2 linked regions of the Homo sapiens genome follow. The protein of the gene in region 1 interacts with the protein of each later gene in a pairwise test. Each region holds a gene or a part of one and is shown in the gene's direction. Other genes may lie near its edges.

The links.
Region 2: the proteins of APOBEC3A (region 1) and HAGH interact in binary tests that used the Homo sapiens proteins (3 or more experiments, as listed by UniProt).

What each region holds. Positions count from the first base shown.
Region 1 is NC_000022.11:38,952,657-38,961,476, forward strand, and holds the start of APOBEC3A (DNA dC->dU-editing enzyme APOBEC-3A), read left to right. Parts: upstream 1-4,952; 5' UTR 4,953-5,035; coding exon 5,036-5,064; intron 5,065-6,885; coding exon 6,886-7,030; intron 7,031-8,730; coding exon 8,731-8,820.
Region 2 is NC_000016.10:1,809,826-1,817,789, reverse strand, and holds part of HAGH (hydroxyacylglutathione hydrolase, mitochondrial isoform 1 precursor), read left to right. Parts: intron 1-518; coding exon 519-622; intron 623-795; coding exon 796-897; intron 898-7,956; coding exon 7,957-7,964. UniProt on the Homo sapiens protein: Thiolesterase that catalyzes the hydrolysis of S-D-lactoyl-glutathione to form glutathione and D-lactic acid.

The sequences.
Region 1 (8,820 bases):
GGATAGGAAGAAATACAGGAAAACACTTTTGTAATCTTGTGGTTGAGAAAGCTGGCATAAACAAGGCACACAATGCCAGACACTATGGCCTTCAGGCCTCCCTGCCACGGGGATGCTGCCTTTTCTGCTCCGGGTGTTTCCACGAGGCAGGCATGGAATCTTCCCTGGACAAGCGACATACCGTGGAGAGACAGGTAAGAATTTCTACACATAGGAAGGGTGGAGCAGCCATGGTCTTAGATGTGAGCCCAAGGGAAGACAGCCTGATATATTTTACTGGGCCATATTTGAAATTTCTGCACAGCGGAAGACACCATACAGTAAACACAGGAGCCTGCGAGAGAACCTCTGCCGAGCACCAGTGAACGGCCAAGTGACACGAGTGACACCATGAGCTTGGTGCCCTCTCCATCCCAAGCCAGAGGCGGAAGCCAGGCCCTTCCTCCCAGCCCAGACTCCTACATCCCAAACTTGAGCCATGGCACACATGCTGGGCACTTACTCTGTGCATAGCAGAGGGAGCTGAGCTGCATCCAGAAACAGACCTAGGAGCTCACAGACCCAAGGCCTGGGTCTCCACCCCTGGAAGAGGGTGGTGCCGAGAGCAGGGCCCCCGGCTGTCACTGGCCCGGAGCTCACCGTGCAGGGGCAGCCCAGGCCCTCCGGGGATGGCACTGGGGTGTCGGAGGCCAAGGAGCAGAAACAGCTGTGGATGCTTCCCTCGGAGGACTGGGTGGGGCCGGGACCACCAGGACCTGCCCACCACCTTCTCTATGGGGCATCTGGCTGTGTCTGGGAGTATCTTGTGGAAGGGTCCTTTTTACCATGTGGGATCGGTGGTCCAGACTTGTCTGGGAGCCAAGGATACCAGGCATGTCAAGTAGGCTCTTCCAGAAGGTTTTCCCTCCTGGGATGTCTGTGTCTCTGCCCCTCTCCTGCTGCCTGCATCAGGAAGGGAGGGAGCAGATGGGCTGGTGAAGTGAGCAATGTCAGTCACATGCATGGACTGTCCAGGGCTCATTCTGTGCTGAGGGTCCTCCCGTGAATACGTGGCTCACCAGCGTCCCACCCCATAGAGAAGGTGGGGGGCTGGCCCTGGCAGCCAGGGCTGGAGTGGGAGGAGGTTGACCAGGAGCATGGGGGTGAGGGAGAAAGAGAGAGGGACCCCACTGTGCTGCCCTAGCACAAGGGACACTGGTCTTCCTGATTCCTGGCCTTCCACGAGGTGGGACGCCCCTCCTTCTCTGGGCTCCTTCTCTGCCCCGCGGGGTGGTGGATGCAGTAGGGACCTTCCACCTCAGGACCTCAGGAGCCGCATATGTGGTACACAGTGGGCCTCCTCGACAGCTGCTCATGAGCAAACAGGCCCAACTCCTTCTGGTGGCAAAGACACAGACACACACAGACACATAAGCACACACAGACAGTGACAGGACAGAAAGGAACCTTCCCCGGGGTTTCCCAGACACACCCAGATGTCTACCTCAGCTCTGCCCCAAGTCAGAGGATTGCAGCAATTCTTACCGTGAAGAGTGCTGGGGAAACCACGTCATCAACCCCGATCCTCTCGTTTTCATTTCTGGGTTCTGACAACAGCCCCAGCTCCACCCCTTGAAACAAGTGACCGAAAAATGGACAACATGTAGTCACTCTGGGCAAAGAGGCCACCCCAGTGGGGGTATGGGGGACAGAGGGCCCCACCCTGGGAGGACAGCACTGTCCCCTGTCCAAGGGCAGGTGCAGCCACCTCCTCCACCTCCCTATTCCCCCCACCCTTTGTCCCCCCCGCCCCCCCGAGCTTGGCCCCTTTGCTTGGAGAGATCCTTTGGTTTTTTCGATCACTTGCTTCTAGGCTGAGGAGGGCGGGGCTGTTGTCAGAGCCCAGAATCAAAGCCAGAGGAGCAGGTGGACGCTGAGACTGTCCCCTCACCCTGCTCCACGGGCAATGTTGAAGTGGGCATCTGGGTGTGTCTGGGGTATCCCAAGGAAGGGTCCTTTTCGTCATGTCACTCTGTTGGGGGCGGGGCACAGGAGCAGGGAGCCCTTTCTCTCCCGAGCTCCTCAGACTCCCAGCTTCCCTGGGTCTCATCTCAGAGCTTTGCCTATGACCTGGGAGCCCTGTGGGTCCAGGGGAGGGGACTGGACGCAGCCCCATGACAATGCTCAGACCTGGGCTAGGAACTGGAAGCCTGTGGTTCCTCTGGGCTGTAGGGGTTGGGGCCCCACAGTGATGGCAGAGCCAGGACCTCATACACAGCAGCATGGACTCCAGACCCGAGCGGGACCTCCGTTCTGGTCCCAGGGTGACCTGGGCTGAGTGGCCCAGCAATCAGGGACCACTTCAGGGTCCCTCTGCACTGGTCTGTCCCTCTCACCCAGTCTGGACCCCTGTGGGGCACTTGCCCTGTCCCCAGTTTTCCTTACAGGGGACCTGGGCAAAGCCCAGGGAAGCTTGCACCTGTTAAGGAGGCCATTCTCCTGCCTCCCCCTTGGGGATCCAGTTTCTTTCTCTCGCCTTGGACCTTCCCCAGGATCCTATGGAAACTCCAGCAAGACCTGGTATTTTATCACATTTTCACAGTTATCGCATTGATTGTTCAGCCAACATTCCAGGGACAGAAATGGGGGAGGGGCTGTCCTTCCCCAGGAAAGGGTGGAATCTCCTTCCGTCTTCCTTACAGTTGGCCTAGGGAAGGTGCACACTCTTAACCACCCCTGGGTTCCCCTGATGCCTTGAAGACCCTGCCTTGCCCTGGCTGCAGGGGGACCAGGAAGGGGCCAGTTGTGTCTGGGACATTCCTGCCGGGAGAGAGTCAGGCCCTAGTGCACAGAAGGATGTGGGTGTGGTCGGTGGGGGCACTGGCAGGGGGTAGGGCACATAAGTCCCTGGGGAGCTCACTCAGAGGTTCCAGGTTGTGGCCCTTATGGAAGTTCCTGGGTCCAGGGGCTAGAGTGAGACTGTTCCCCGCTCATGTCTGGGCTGCAGACGCCCAACCAGTGGCTCCCCCTGTCCACCCTTGGCAAGGGAGGGTCCTGGCCTCCCTCTCTGCTAGTGGGGACCCCCCAACACCCTGTCTTCTCTCCTCTCTGGAGCTCTGCCTGGGTGCATGGCTTGTACAGTGAGTTACTGAGAATTGAACTCTGGACAGTAGCTGGGCCCCACTTTGCTTTAAACATTTTAGTCTGAGGCCTTCTTTGTCATCAGATGAGAAGGTTCACAGATGTGCAGATGTGCTGATAGTCTAACCTGACTGGTTTGTAAAACTAGAAAGAGAAACAGACAATGTGCCTGTTTCTGTGATGGGCCATAAAGTGGATCTTACAGATTTGGAGACATTCTGGAAGATCTGGACCTGTCTGGATCAGAGAGGGGAGGCAGGCATGGGCCAGTCATGAATCCAGTGGGGCTTGGGCCAGCTGGGGCAGCAGGGAGGAGGACGTGCCCAGGGTGGGTGAGCTGGGGAGACCCTGGAACCCAAGGCTGAGGACCCAGAGCCAGGAGATGCAGGAGACGCCCCAGGGATGCTGAACAAAGCGCTGTCCCCTGTTGCAGCTCTCCTGGGTCTCCCCATAGAAAGCTCATGTGGGGGCTGTCCTGACCATGGGTCCAGGGGTGTATTTGCTCCAGGGGCATTTGATGCATTATTGAGCCAGGGGAAAGGCCATCACACTCTGGGCAGCAGGAGCCACCGGGAAGGGTTGGGGAAGGGTTGGATCCTCCCAAAGTTGGTACAAGTGTGGTCTCTGGCCCAGGTGGGCTGTGGGTACTGCGGGGCGTCCAGCTGTGCATGCCTCTGGTGTGAACTGGGAAGGGTGGCCTCTGGTCAGACTCACACAACACACCAAGATGAGCTCACACCAGAACCACCTGAGACTCAAATGGCAGTTGACTGCCCCCAGGGGACATCTTCTTGACTAGAAGAGTCCAACATCTGGAGACAGAATGGGAGGGGTCCTCACGGCAGAGAACAGGGCCTCTTCTAGTCTGTGGCGCCCACCAAAATGGCAGGGACACTGTGCTGAGGTGGGAGGATTGCTGGCCAAAGACAGGGGGGTCTAGTAAGAGCCAGAACAGGGGAGCAGGCAGGACAGGGGACAGCCCCTGGGCCCACAGGGCCAGCACCTTCCAGGGGCAGCTGTGCTGGGTGTAGCAGGTGGACCTGGGAAAGGACGGCGCCAGACCTGCCGCCAGGACTCAGGGGCTCACTTGGGGCAGGAGCACAGTGTCCCTCACATTTCTGCAGGGCCCAGAGGTGGGAGAAAGGGCACAGGGTGGCCCTTCTGACAGGGGGGTGGGGGTGTGTCCCTGCTGGGGACTCTGTTTCCTGGGAGGGCCTGGATCTCTAGGTACCTTTCAGAGCCTTTAGCATCTCCTCTGGGTAATGGGGATGAAAACACTCCTCCCTCTAGTTTACAATTATTAGATACACTGATGCATAGGAGGATGCAGGACCTGCTGGTCTCCCATCTTCACAGCCAGGGAAGAAGATGCAGGACCCTAACAGAGAGCACAGGATGCAGCAGGTGCCAGGGAGCCTGGACCAGGCACATCCTGCACTGGCCACAGGGGAGGACACAGGGGTGGCTGTCCTGGAGCCTGCTCTCTGGACCGCTGAGTGTTATTCAGGGTCTTTCTCCAGGGTGTGGACACCTGTCTTCTCACCTGCCCCCTGGTCTCCTGCCTTCCAGATTCCTGTGGCCCACAGGGAGCAAAGTGTGGCCAGCTCTACATCCCCATTGTCACTCCACAGTGTCTGGTGGTTCAGTGGTCAGAGTGGGCACATCAAAACCAAAGCTTGCCCAGAGGCATGGCAGAGAACTTCCTTGTTCTGACGCTAATGAGGGTGGCACACTCGGCCTGAGCTGGAGAAGGGGTGGGGCAGGGTATCGCTGACTCAGCAGCTTCCAGGTTGCTCTGATGATATATTAAGGCTCCTGAATCCTAAGAGAATGTTGGTGAAGATCTTAACACCACGCCTTGAGCAAGTCGCAAGAGCGGGAGGACACAGACCAGGAACCGAGAAGGGACAAGCACATGGAAGCCAGCCCAGCATCCGGGCCCAGGTATGGGAAGCCCCTCCGAGCACCTCTGCGCCTCAGCCTCCTCTTTGAGCTTTTCTGATGAGCACTCACCTCTCACCCTCAAACCCCTGGGGCCTCTCTTTTCCTCCTGACCCTCTCTCTGGACCTGGCCTCTTGCTCTAGGTTCCCAGTTTTGGTCCCAGCGCTGGTCTCTCCTCCGATGGTACCAATTCCAGGTCTCCTTCCACCTCCCGGGGCAGGTGCACAGGGAGCCTGAAAATCCCAATAGATAATGGTGCTGTGCCCCAGCCAGTGAAGACGGTCAGAGAGGGGATTCTCCTCACTTGTCTTTAAATGAGCATCTACTATTTCTTGCAAATGTTCCATGTATCTGGACTTGGCCTAAGCCCTTTTTATGTTCAGTGTCATCTCGTTCTCCCTAATATTAAGAAAAGGGGGTTGCTTGTAGGACTGCTTGGCTATGAGGAAGCCTTGTTTCCTTTTTTTGAGAACACAGAGCAAGTGAGTGGTAGAGCCCAGATTCATGCCCAGGTCTACTCGAAATGGTGGGGAACATTTTGAACCTTCCTTCCTTCTTTCCTTCCTTCCTTCCTCCTTCCTTCCTTCCTTCCTTCAATTCTCTCTCTCTTTCTTTCTTCTTTCTTTCTCTCTCTCTCTTTCCTTCTTTATTTCTTTTTCTTCTTTCTCTCTCTTCCCTCCCTCCTTCCTTCCCTTCTGTGCTTCCTTCCTTTCTTCCAATATTTCCCTTTCTCTCTTCCTCCCTTCCTTCCTTTCTCTTTCTTTCTTTCCTTCTTTCTTTCTTTTTCTTTCATTCTTTCCTTCTTTCTTTCTTTTACTTCCTTCCTCCCTCCTTCCTTCCTCTCTTTCTTCTTTCCTTTCCTTCCTTTCTTCCTTCCTTCCTCTCTTTCTCCCTTTCTCCCTCCCTTCCTTTCTTTTTTCTTTCTTTTCTTTCTTTCTTCTTTCCTTCTTTCTTTCTTTTCCTTCCTTTCTTTTTTCTTTCTTTCTTTCCTTCTTTTTCTTTTCCTTCCTTCCTCCCTCCCTCCCTTCCTTCCTTCCTCCATCTCTCTTTCTCTTTCTTTCTTTCTTTCTTTCTTTCTTTCCTTCCTTCTTTCTCTTTCCTTCTTTCTTTCTTTCTTTCCTTCCTTCTTTCTCTTTCCTTCTTTCTTTCTTTCTTTTGTGCTGCCTCCCAACAGAGATTTTTCTAATTCTGATTATGTCAGGATGCATAGAGAGGGGCTGGGAGAGGTCTTCAAGGTGGGGCTGGTGTTTCCAGCCCAGGAGTCCTGAGCTGCCCCATCTCAATTGCCTGAGAAGCACATTTGGGAGACCTCAGGGCACCCTAAGGGATGTGGAAAATCCTATGAATTACCCGAAAAGAAGTCCCTGGCAGGTTCCTCTCCCCAGTCATCCCCCTCAGGAGTGTCCCTGTCCCGATGCTCGGTGTGGTAGGAGTTAACCCTGCAGGCAGGAGGAAGCCCCAGAGGGTCCATCTCCAGCAGGGGCTGTGGGTGAGCAGAGCCAGGACAGGGGTGCATGGTGAGGCCACAGAATAAGACCCAGCTCTACCCCAGGGAGAGGAGCAGGGTCCTCCTCGGAGGGCCTGAGCACACTGAGCTGACCCTGGGGAGACCCTGACAAGGCTTAGACAGGCCCCAGGGCTGCAGTGATCTCCCAGTGAGCCATAGAAGGGGTCAGAGGGGGAGGTTTGGAAGTGTGCTAAGGGATGTGCGGAGCAGGGGGAAGGAGGGTGGGGTGCAAGGGAGGAAGTGTGGGGAGGGAGGAGGAGGCAGGGCAGTCCAGGAGGGCTCTTCCTCCTCTGGTCTTTTCCCTGGCTGTCCACAGACACTTGATGGATCCACACATATTCACTTCCAACTTTAACAATGGCATTGGAAGGCATAAGACCTACCTGTGCTACGAAGTGGAGCGCCTGGACAATGGCACCTCGGTCAAGATGGACCAGCACAGGGGCTTTCTACACAACCAGGTGACCGACCCAGCCATCCGAATCCGGGCAGGGCCCTTCCAATCCAGGGACATTCATAGGTAGAAGGTTCCGGATTGTACTTGTGGTTTCCTGCAGTGTTTGTCACTTGTGCTTCCTGCAGCTGCTGCTGCTTGGCCCTGGGGTTGGGGGGAGACTTCGGCTTCAGTGACTATCCATGCCCAGGTGGGGTTGAGTCTGCCCAATGGCAAAGTGCTTCCTGAGGACCCTCCCAGGATCCCCTCACAGACACAGCTCTCACCAGGAACAATTCAGCAATGTGGGATCTGAGGACTCAGGGCCTACCTGACCTCACAAGGCCAGGATGCCCCAGTGCCCTCTCCTGGGCTTCATCCTGCACGGAGAGAGACTGAGGCAGGAGAGGCTGACCAGGGATCCTGTCCTGCCCAGGGTGGAGCCCACAGCAAGGCCAGAACAGGTCCCATGTCAGGATGCAGGGATGTCCAGCATTTGGGGAGGAGCTGGGCCAGGCCAGGCTGAGGGGCCCTGAGCCCGGGGGACTTTCTTCCCTGGCCCCTACCCAGCACAGCCTCTGTCTGGAGAGACCAGGTAATGCTTGGCTCCGGTGCTGGAAACTGGGACCTTCTCTGGGCTCTATGAGCTCAATGTGGGCCTCGCTGGATCCACACACACTGCTTGGAACATCCTTTCAAGGGTGCCAGTCTCCATCACCGCCTAAGCAGTGGGACTCCCCCAGGAACGACCCACAGCCCCTTCTCAGCACAAACCATGTCATCCACTCCACCCTGCATCACTGCTGATGGAGTCCCTCCCTGTCTTTGTCCCCATCACAATCACAGTCCTTGCTGCCCTGCTGTCCCCAACTTGACCGATTCCTAGTCTTAGTGGAAAATCCTTTTCTCTGGAGTTTGGAGTAAATACCATATTTCTATAAGTCAAAATAATGACAATTATACCATGTCACAGGGACCTTCCCACGTTGGAGTGAGTCCTGCTGGTCTTCTCTTCCCCACTACTTTTGGTGGAATTCATTTTGGCCTAAGTCTATATCACATTTGGGCTCAGCACAGGTTGTGGCACAGAATAGAAGCTTCTAGAATTATGGGCCACAGATGGGATGGGAGTAGGGGAGTTGATGAGTAGAGCAGGTCAATCTCCCCTTGAAGGAAGCACACTCACTCAGGGCCATCAGGCCAATGACCTCGGGGCTCCGCCGGCCCCTCCTCCCTGCCCCCATCTCTGTAGCCCCTCCCTGCAGGGCTGGGTCTGGGGTGAGGGTCCTGAAGGCTCTGACCTTGGGTACAAAATTGATGGGGGCTCCAAATGCTCAGTAATTAGAGAAAACACATTTTAATTTAATAATTAATGCAATATTTTAAAACGCAAATTTAATACAAATAGATCATGATGAATAAAAGCAAAGATTTTAATAAAGCCTGGCAGGAGAGTGCTGTCCTGTGTATAGTGGAGCTGGGGCAAAATAAAACCTCATTGCTCCTGATCTGTTTGTATTTAAATGGGCAACATTTTGCTTATCTTGGGATTTTTGCATAACATCTGATATTTTTAATATTGCATAGAAAATCATGCATCCTAATAACCGGGGTTTTGGTGACCCCTCTAATTTCGTGCTGGAGGCCCCCGCCTCCCCAGCCCCACCTGGTCCAGGCGCTCCCTCCCTGTTCACCACACATCACCTCACACTCTGTTTCCTTTTCTAGGCTAAGAATCTTCTCTGTGGCTTTTACGGCCGCCATGCGGAGCTGCGCTTCTTGGACCTGGTTCCTTCTTTGCAGTTGGACCCGGCCCAG
Region 2 (7,964 bases), on another chromosome or scaffold:
GGGTGGGGATGCCGTCCTGAGGCCGAGGCCGGAAGGAGCCTGGGTGCGCCTGAGGTGCCCAGCGGTGTGGGCCGCATCTTCCGCCATGGGTGAGAGGTGGTCCCGCTCAGCTCAGCCAGGGTGGTGAGACCTTGGTCACAGGGTGGCGCTGGCTGCTGGGGCCAAGGGAAGATGGGAGCCAGGCATGGGCCTGAGAGGGGCTGCTGCGTGTTTGGGGAGAGGGCTGGATTTGTGAGGGTCTCAGAGCCACAGTTGGTGGGATTGGGGGCAGTGAGGGAGGAGTGACTTGGGTTTCGGGTCTGCTCGGCCAGTTGGGTGGTTGGACTGTCAGCTGAGACTTGGAAGGAGATGTGGGAGCCGGAATGCAGGGGGGCTGAGTCTGGGCAGCCGTGGCCGGAGGGCAGCCAGGGTTCGGGGCCTGGGCCTTGCCGGTGAGTGTCACCCTGCTCCTGGCCCCCTCCTGAGTCCTAGCCACCAGCCTCAAGTGGCCCCCACCTCGTGGCTGTCCTTGTTTCCAGGTGACACCTTGTTTGTGGCTGGCTGCGGGAAGTTCTATGAAGGGACTGCGGATGAGATGTGTAAAGCTCTGCTGGAGGTCTTGGGCCGGCTCCCCCCGGACACAGTAGGCAGCGCCTCCCTGCGGGCCGGGGTGTGGGGGGCCTTAACCAGGGCGGGGCTGCTCTCCCTCCTGGCACCCTCTCACCGGACACCCCCCGGGGGCATCCAGGTCCCGTCCCTGAGGACTTTCACAGGTGGTAACAGCCTTCCGAGCTCACCTGTCACCTCTCTCCTCAGAGAGTCTACTGTGGCCACGAGTACACCATCAACAACCTCAAGTTTGCACGCCACGTGGAGCCCGGCAATGCCGCCATCCGGGAGAAGCTGGCCTGGGCCAAGGTGAGTGGGGCCGTCACTGCGCAGTGCCTTCCTGTGGGCTGCTCAGGGCCGCTGTGCACAGCGGGGTCGCCAGAGTGGGTAGACACTCACACTCTGAGCCCAGAGAGCAGGCCTGGGATTCAGGCCAGTGTGGCCCAGCTCGCCCTGCACGGCAAACCCAGGGGTTCTATGGAGATCCCTCTGCCTCGGAGGGTCTGGAGTAGGCCTCAGACGCTGCGTGTGTAAAAAGCGCCCAGCCTGTTCCCACATTCTGAGCAGTAGGGTCAGGCTGGCAGCACGTGGCTCTGCTGGCTCTCCAGGCCACAGAACGTGGCTCTGTGTCCAAAGGACTCTTATCTCCACGGTGGCCCCACGTGAGCCTCCATGGCGTAGCCCAGGCCAGCTGGGCCAAAGTCTGCCAGGAGCAGGACGGGGTTCTCCAGGGGTGTGTTTCCCCGAATTCACTGGAAACGGTGTCACAAGCACGCACGCCTGGGTGGTCTCAGGCGTGGGCTCCCTCTGCTGAGTGGAGTGAGAGTCGCTGCCTCTGACAGGGTTGTTTTAAATAAATCACCCGGTTTTTTGAGCATCTTTTTCAATTTCTTAGAGTAGAGGTTAACATTATTTTACAGTATTTACTCATGCAAATTCCAACTCTAAATCAGATGAATCATAAATACTCATCTTTTTTTTTTTTTTAATTTTTTTTTGAGACGGAGTCTCCCTCTGTCGCCCAGGCTGGAGTACAGTGGCGTAATCTCGGCTCACTGCAACCAGCACCTCCCGGGTTCAAGAAATTCTCCCTGCTGGCCGGGCGTGGTGGCTCACGCTTGTAATCCCAACTACTCAGGAGGCTGAGGCAGGAGAATCGCTTGAACCCAGGAGGCAGAGGTTGCAGTGAGCCAAGATCGCTCCACTGCGCTCCAGCCTGGTGACAGAGCGAGACTCCGTCTCAAAAAAAAAAAAAAAAAAAAAAAAAAATTCTCCCTGCCTCAGCCTCTTGAGTAGCTGGGATTACAGGCGCCAGCCAACACGCCCAGCTAATTTTTCTACTTTTAGTAGAGATAGGGTTTTGCCATGTTGGCCAGGCTCGTCTTGAACTCCTGACTTCAGGTAATCCGCCTGCCTTGGCCTCCCAAAGTGCTGAGATTACAGGCGTGAGCCACGTCACCTGGCCCGTGTGTCTGTCTTGAGTGGACAGATTGCAGTTTGAGGAATGTTGATGATGTTTGCACTTGTGTAATCCCCTCCACAGTCCAGATGTGGAACTTACCACTACCCCAAAGGCTCCTGTGTCCCTCCCATGTGGCGTCCCCGCCAGCTGTTGCTCTGCTGTGACCTCAGGTCACTTTCTAGTTTCCCATGAACAGAATCTCATTGCTCCGTCATCTCTGTGGCATTCTCGGCCCCGCTGATGTTGGTGAGGGTCAGCCACGCTCTTTGCTTCTGAGTAGCCCATTGTGTGGAAATGCTACAATTTGTTTATGCATTTGTCTGTTTCCAGTTTTTTGCTATTTGAATAAAGCTGCTATGGACATTTGTGTACAAGTCTTTTGTGAACATGTTTTTATTGCTCTTGGATACTACCTAAGAGTGGAATTGCTGTGTTGTGTGGTTAAAGGTGTGAACCGTTTTCCAAAAATGGTTGTACTGTTCTACAGTCCCCCACCAATGCTTGAGTTCCGGGGCCTCCATGCTGTGCCAGCACTGCTTGGTGTTGTCGGTCTCTCCAATTTTTGCCATTCTAACTTGCCTGTGGTGGCGTCTCACTGCCTTTAAAATGTGGATTTCCCCATGTGACCATCTTTTCATGTGTGTCGGCCTTTGGATGCCTTCTCATGAAGTTTATGTTCAATCTTTTGTCCATTTTAAATATTGGGTTTGGCCTGTTGGGCTGCTCTTGTAAGAGTTCCTTATATCATCTGGAAACAAGTCTTTGTGAGATATATATATATATGTGTGTGTGTGTGTGTGTGTGTGTGTATATACATATATATATTTATTTGTTTGTTTTTTGAGACAAAGTCTTGCTCTGTCGCCCAGGCTGGAGTGCAGTGGTGTGATCTCATCTCACTGCAAGCTCTGCCTCCCGGGTTCAAGCCATTCTCCTGCCTCAGCCTCCCAAGTAGCTGGGACTACAGGTGCCCGTCACCACGCCCAGCTAATTTTTTGTATTTTTAGTAGAGATGGGTTTCACCGTGTTATCCAGGAAGGTCTCGATCTCCTGACCTCGTGATCCACCCGCCTCGGCCTCCCAAAGTGCTGGGATTACAGGCGTGACCCACCACGCCCAGCTGAGATATATATTTAAAAGATGTTTTTCTCTCCCAGCTCATGGCTTGCCTTTTCATTTTCTTAACATTGTCTTTTGGAAAATAGTTTATAGTTTTGGTGAAGTTCCATTTACTTATTTTTTGTTTGTTTCTTTTTTTTTTTTTTGAGACGGAGTTTCACTCTTGTTGCCCAGGCTGGAGTGCAGCGGCGCGATCTCAGCTCACCGCAACATCCACCTCCTGGGTTTAAGCGATTCTCCTGCCTCAGCCTCCCGAGTAGCTGGGATTACAGGCATGCACCACCACACCCGGTTAATTTTGTATTTTTAGTAGAGATGGGGTTTCTCCATGTTGATCAGGCTGGACTCGAACTCCTGACCTCAGGTGATCTGCCCACCTTGGGCTCCAAAAGTGCTGGGATTACAGATGTGAGCCACTGCGCCCGGCCTACTCAATTTTTCTTTTATGTTTCTTGTGCCCTTTCTAAGATATCTTTGCATACCCTTAGCTCACAAAGACTTTCTCCTGTGTTTCTTCCTAGAAGTTTTAAAGTCTTAGCTTTTATATTTACAAACAATTTACAGTGTTCCCTTTCAAGATGGTGTTTGTGTGTGGTGCGAGGTGAGGGTAGAGGTTCACCCTCTCGCAGTGTGATCCCGAGGTGTTCAGGGCTGTCTGTCGAAGGACTGTCCTTTCCTCCCTGGATTGCCTTGGCACCTTTCTGAAAAGAATGGGCCCTCTATGCCCGAGTCTGCTTCTGGTCTCTGCTCTGTTTCGTTGGTCTCTATGACTTGCCACGGTGTCCGAGGACAGCACCTTGATGACTGTAACTCTGTGCTGAGTCTTGGCACTGGTATGTGTGAATCCTCCAGTGTTCTTTTTCAAAATGGTTTTAGTTGTTTTAAGCCTTTTACATTTCCGTTTTCAGAATCATCTCGTGAACTTCTATCAGAAAAGCTAGCCTGGCTGCTGATTGGGACTGTTGTGATAACTGATGTGGCGAGAATTGCGATCTTAACATTGAGTGTTTCTGTGAGCTTTCCATCTATGAATGTCTTTAGCTTTTCTCAGCAGTGTTTTGAAATTTGCGTGTTCAAGGTCTTGCACGTGTTACTAAATGGATCCCTAAGCACTTCTGGTCATGATTATTTGTTGATACTAGTTATAAATACAGTGGATGCGTATTAACTTCCTGGGTGTCTTAGTCTGTGTGGTGTTGCTATAAAGGAATACTTGAGGCCGGGTGACTTATAAAAGGAGGTTTATGTGGCTCATGGTTATGCAGGCTATATAAGCAGCATGGCCTGGGCGTCTGCACCTGGTGAGGCCTCAGGCTGCTTCTGCTCATGGCAGAAGGCGAAAGGAGCTGGTGGGTGTGAAGCATGTGGCCAGAGGAAGGAGAGAGTGGGGGAGGCAAAAGTTTCTTTTAAACAACCAGATCCTGTGGGAACTAACAGCAAAAACTCGCACTTGGAGCAGGGCACCAAGCCGTTCACAAAGGATTCCCCCCATGATCCAAACACCTCCATTAATTGGGGATCAGATTTGAGCATGCGTTTGGAGGGATGGACATCCCAGCCGCAGCCCCGTGTGAACACCCAGGAGAAGGGAGTGGCCGGGCTGGACGGGAGGTGTGTTTGACTTTTAAAGAAACTGCCAAACTCCCCTTCCCCGGTGCTTGTGGTGTTTGCTTTCCTGCTGGGAAGGCGTGGGCACACCAGCTGGTCCGTGTCTTTCGGCACACCACACGGTGGAGCCAGCCCACGCGGTGGAGCCAGCCGTTTGAAAGGAGGTGCTGGAGCCCAGTCCCTGGTGAGAGGCCGCCTCCTGCAGGGCGCCTCCCATTCTGCGGCCTCTGGTTTTCTTAGCAGTATCTTTTGAGCCAACATTTTTAATTTTAATGAAGTCCAATAGATTCTTTTATGCTTCATTCTTTTTTGTCTCCCATCTAAGAAATCTTTGTTTATCCCAAGGTCAAAAAATTTTCTCCTGTATTTTATTTTTGGAATTTGTATAGTTTTAAAACTTAGTATGAACTCCCACCCCCCAAATGTCTGCTGGATCTGTAATGATATTCCTGCTTTCATTCCTGATTTTGACAATTTGTGTGTTTTTTTTTTGTTTTTTTTTTTTTTTGAGACAGCGTTTCGCTCTTGCCGCCCAGGCTGGAGTGCAATGGCGCGATCTCGGCTCACCGCAACCCCTGCCTCCCGGGTTCAAGCGATTCTCATGCCTCAGCCTCCCAAGTAGCTGGGACTACAGGCATGTGCCACCATGCCTGGGTAATTTTTATATTTTTAGTAGAGATGGGGTTTTACCATGTTGGCCAGGCTGATCTCAAACTCCTGACTTCGTGATCTGCCCGCCTCAGCCTCCCAAAGTGCTGGGATTACAGGCGTGAGCCACTGTGCCTGGCCTGTCATTCTTTTTTTTTTTTTTTTTGGTTGGGGAGAGACAGCGTCTTGCTCTGCTGCCCAGGCTGGAGTGCAGTGGCACAATCTCGGCTCACTGCAACCTCCGCCTCCTGGGTTCAGGCGATTCTGCTGCCTCAGTCTCCCGTACCTGGGACTACAGGCCTGTGCCATCATGCTTGGTTAATTTTTGTATTTTTGGTAGAGAGGGGGTTTACACGATGTTGCCTAGGCTGGTCTTGAACTTCTGGGCTCAAGTGATCCTCCTGCCTTGGCCTCCCAAAGTGCTGGGATTACAGGCATGTGCCAACCACACCCGGCCTCATTCTTTTTGATAGGTGTAAAATATACTATTGCGTGGGTGTCACCCATAAATCATTTTACCAATCCCCATAGGAGGGACGTTGAGAGTTTTCAACTCCTTTTGCACCCTGGAGTCCAGAACCCACACGAGGTGGAGCTCTTCTGAGCTGTGCTGCAAGGACTGACCTTATTTTTTTATTTTTATTTTTTTGAGGCAGAGTCTCACTCTGTCACCCAAGCTGGAGTGCAGTGGTGCGATCTCGGCTCACTACTGCAGCCTCCGCCTCCCGGGTTCAAGCGATTCTCCTGCCTCAGCCTCCCAAGTAGCTGGAATTACAGACATGTGCCACCACGTCTGGCTAATTTTTGTATTTTTAGTAGAGACGGGGTTTCACCATGTTGGCCAGGCCGGTCTCAAACTCCTGACCTCAGGTGATCCACCTGCCTCAGCCTCCCCCAGTGCTGGGATTACAGGTGTGAGCAACCGCGCCCGGCCTGTTGTTCTTTCTTTGGGAGACAGTGTCTTGCTCTGCTGCCCAGGCTGGAGTGCAGTGGCATGGTCTTGGCTCGCTGCAGCCTCCACCTCCTGGGTTCAAGTGATTCTCCTGCCTCAGCTTCTCCAGTAGCTGGGATTACAGGCACCCGCCACCACACCCGGCTGATTTTTTCTATTTTAGTAGAGATGGGGTTTCACCGTGTTGCCCAGGCTGGTCTCGAACTCCTGAGTTCAGGCAATCCACCCACCTCGGCCTCCCAAAGTGTTAGGATTACAGGCGTGAGCCACTGCGCTCGGCTGACTGACCTTATTTTTGTCTTTAAATGCTTCGTACTTTGTAGGAAAAATAGCTAGAACATTAAAACTCGTTTTAATAGGTAACCTAAAAGCTTATGACAATTTGTACTTCCTCTGTTTTAAAGGTCTCCTTAGAAGTGTTAACTTTGCTTCCCTCGTAGGAGGCAGAGGGAGATTTCTTAGGATTGAGAATGTTGGTGGGAACACAGGGAATATTTTAAAACATTCTCAGATTCTTTTCGCCAGAAGGGAAGAACAGATTAGTGAGAAACCATCTTGGCATCTACCAGACCCCCGCTTGGTGCAGCTCTACCAGCTGAAGAGTCACTCACCGACACCACTGCCCATAGCGGGTGGGGAACCTCGGGGGTGAGGCGCGGTGGTCTTGAGCCTGTGCGTGGGCACCAGCAGCTTCTGTCAGAGCTCTGCCCTGAGGCCCTCCTGGTGCGGCTGCGGTAGAAGGGCCGGGGCTGTGTGGAGACCCCGCTGTTGCCGCCCTGTGTTTTCCTGCTAACTGTTGGCCCCGTGGCTGGGTTTGCATTCTCCTCCCCCCGCCCCCACCCCATCTGCCCTGGTCAGTGCTGGTCGGAAGGGAGACCATCTCCATCTCGAGAGGAGGTGACCAGCTGCCTGCCTGCAGGGGCTTGGGTGGCCTCCCCTGCTGCTGGTCCCTGTGCCCCTCCTCCCCGTGCTTGCTGTGAGGCTGCAGCTGTGGCGGTTTCTTTTCTGTGTCTCCTGCATTGCTGTTACCTCCATAATGTGAAATGTAAACCATGTGAATGAAAAGGAAGCTCCGTCCCTGTCGTCCTCTCCAGGCCGGTGCGGGAAGGCGGATGTGTGGCTCATCCCGGACGCTGGCTTCTCTTCCCTCTTCCACACGCGCACACCCGCCGGGCTCTGCTCACCTTGCCTTCTCAGCCTTGTCAGTCGGGCAGTGTCCTAAGGTTACCAGGAGGTGTTCTGAAGCATTTTTTGAGACGTGATGTCGCTGTCACCCAGGCTGGAGGGCAGTAGCACAGTCTTGGCTCACTGTAGCCTCGACCTGTGCTCAAGCGATCCTCCCACCTCAGCCCCCTGAGTAGCTGGGACCACAGGTGCCTGCCACCATGCCTGGCTAGTTTTTTGTATTTTTAGTAGACACAGGGTCTCGCCATGTTGTCCAGGCTGGTCTCAAACTCCAGGGCTCAAGTGATCCATCTGCCTTAGCCTCCCAAAGTGCTGGTATCACAGACGTGAGCCTCCGTGCCTGGTCTGCCATCCTGTGAAGTTCCCGTGATAAAGTGGTGCGTTTCTCTTGCAGGAGAAGTA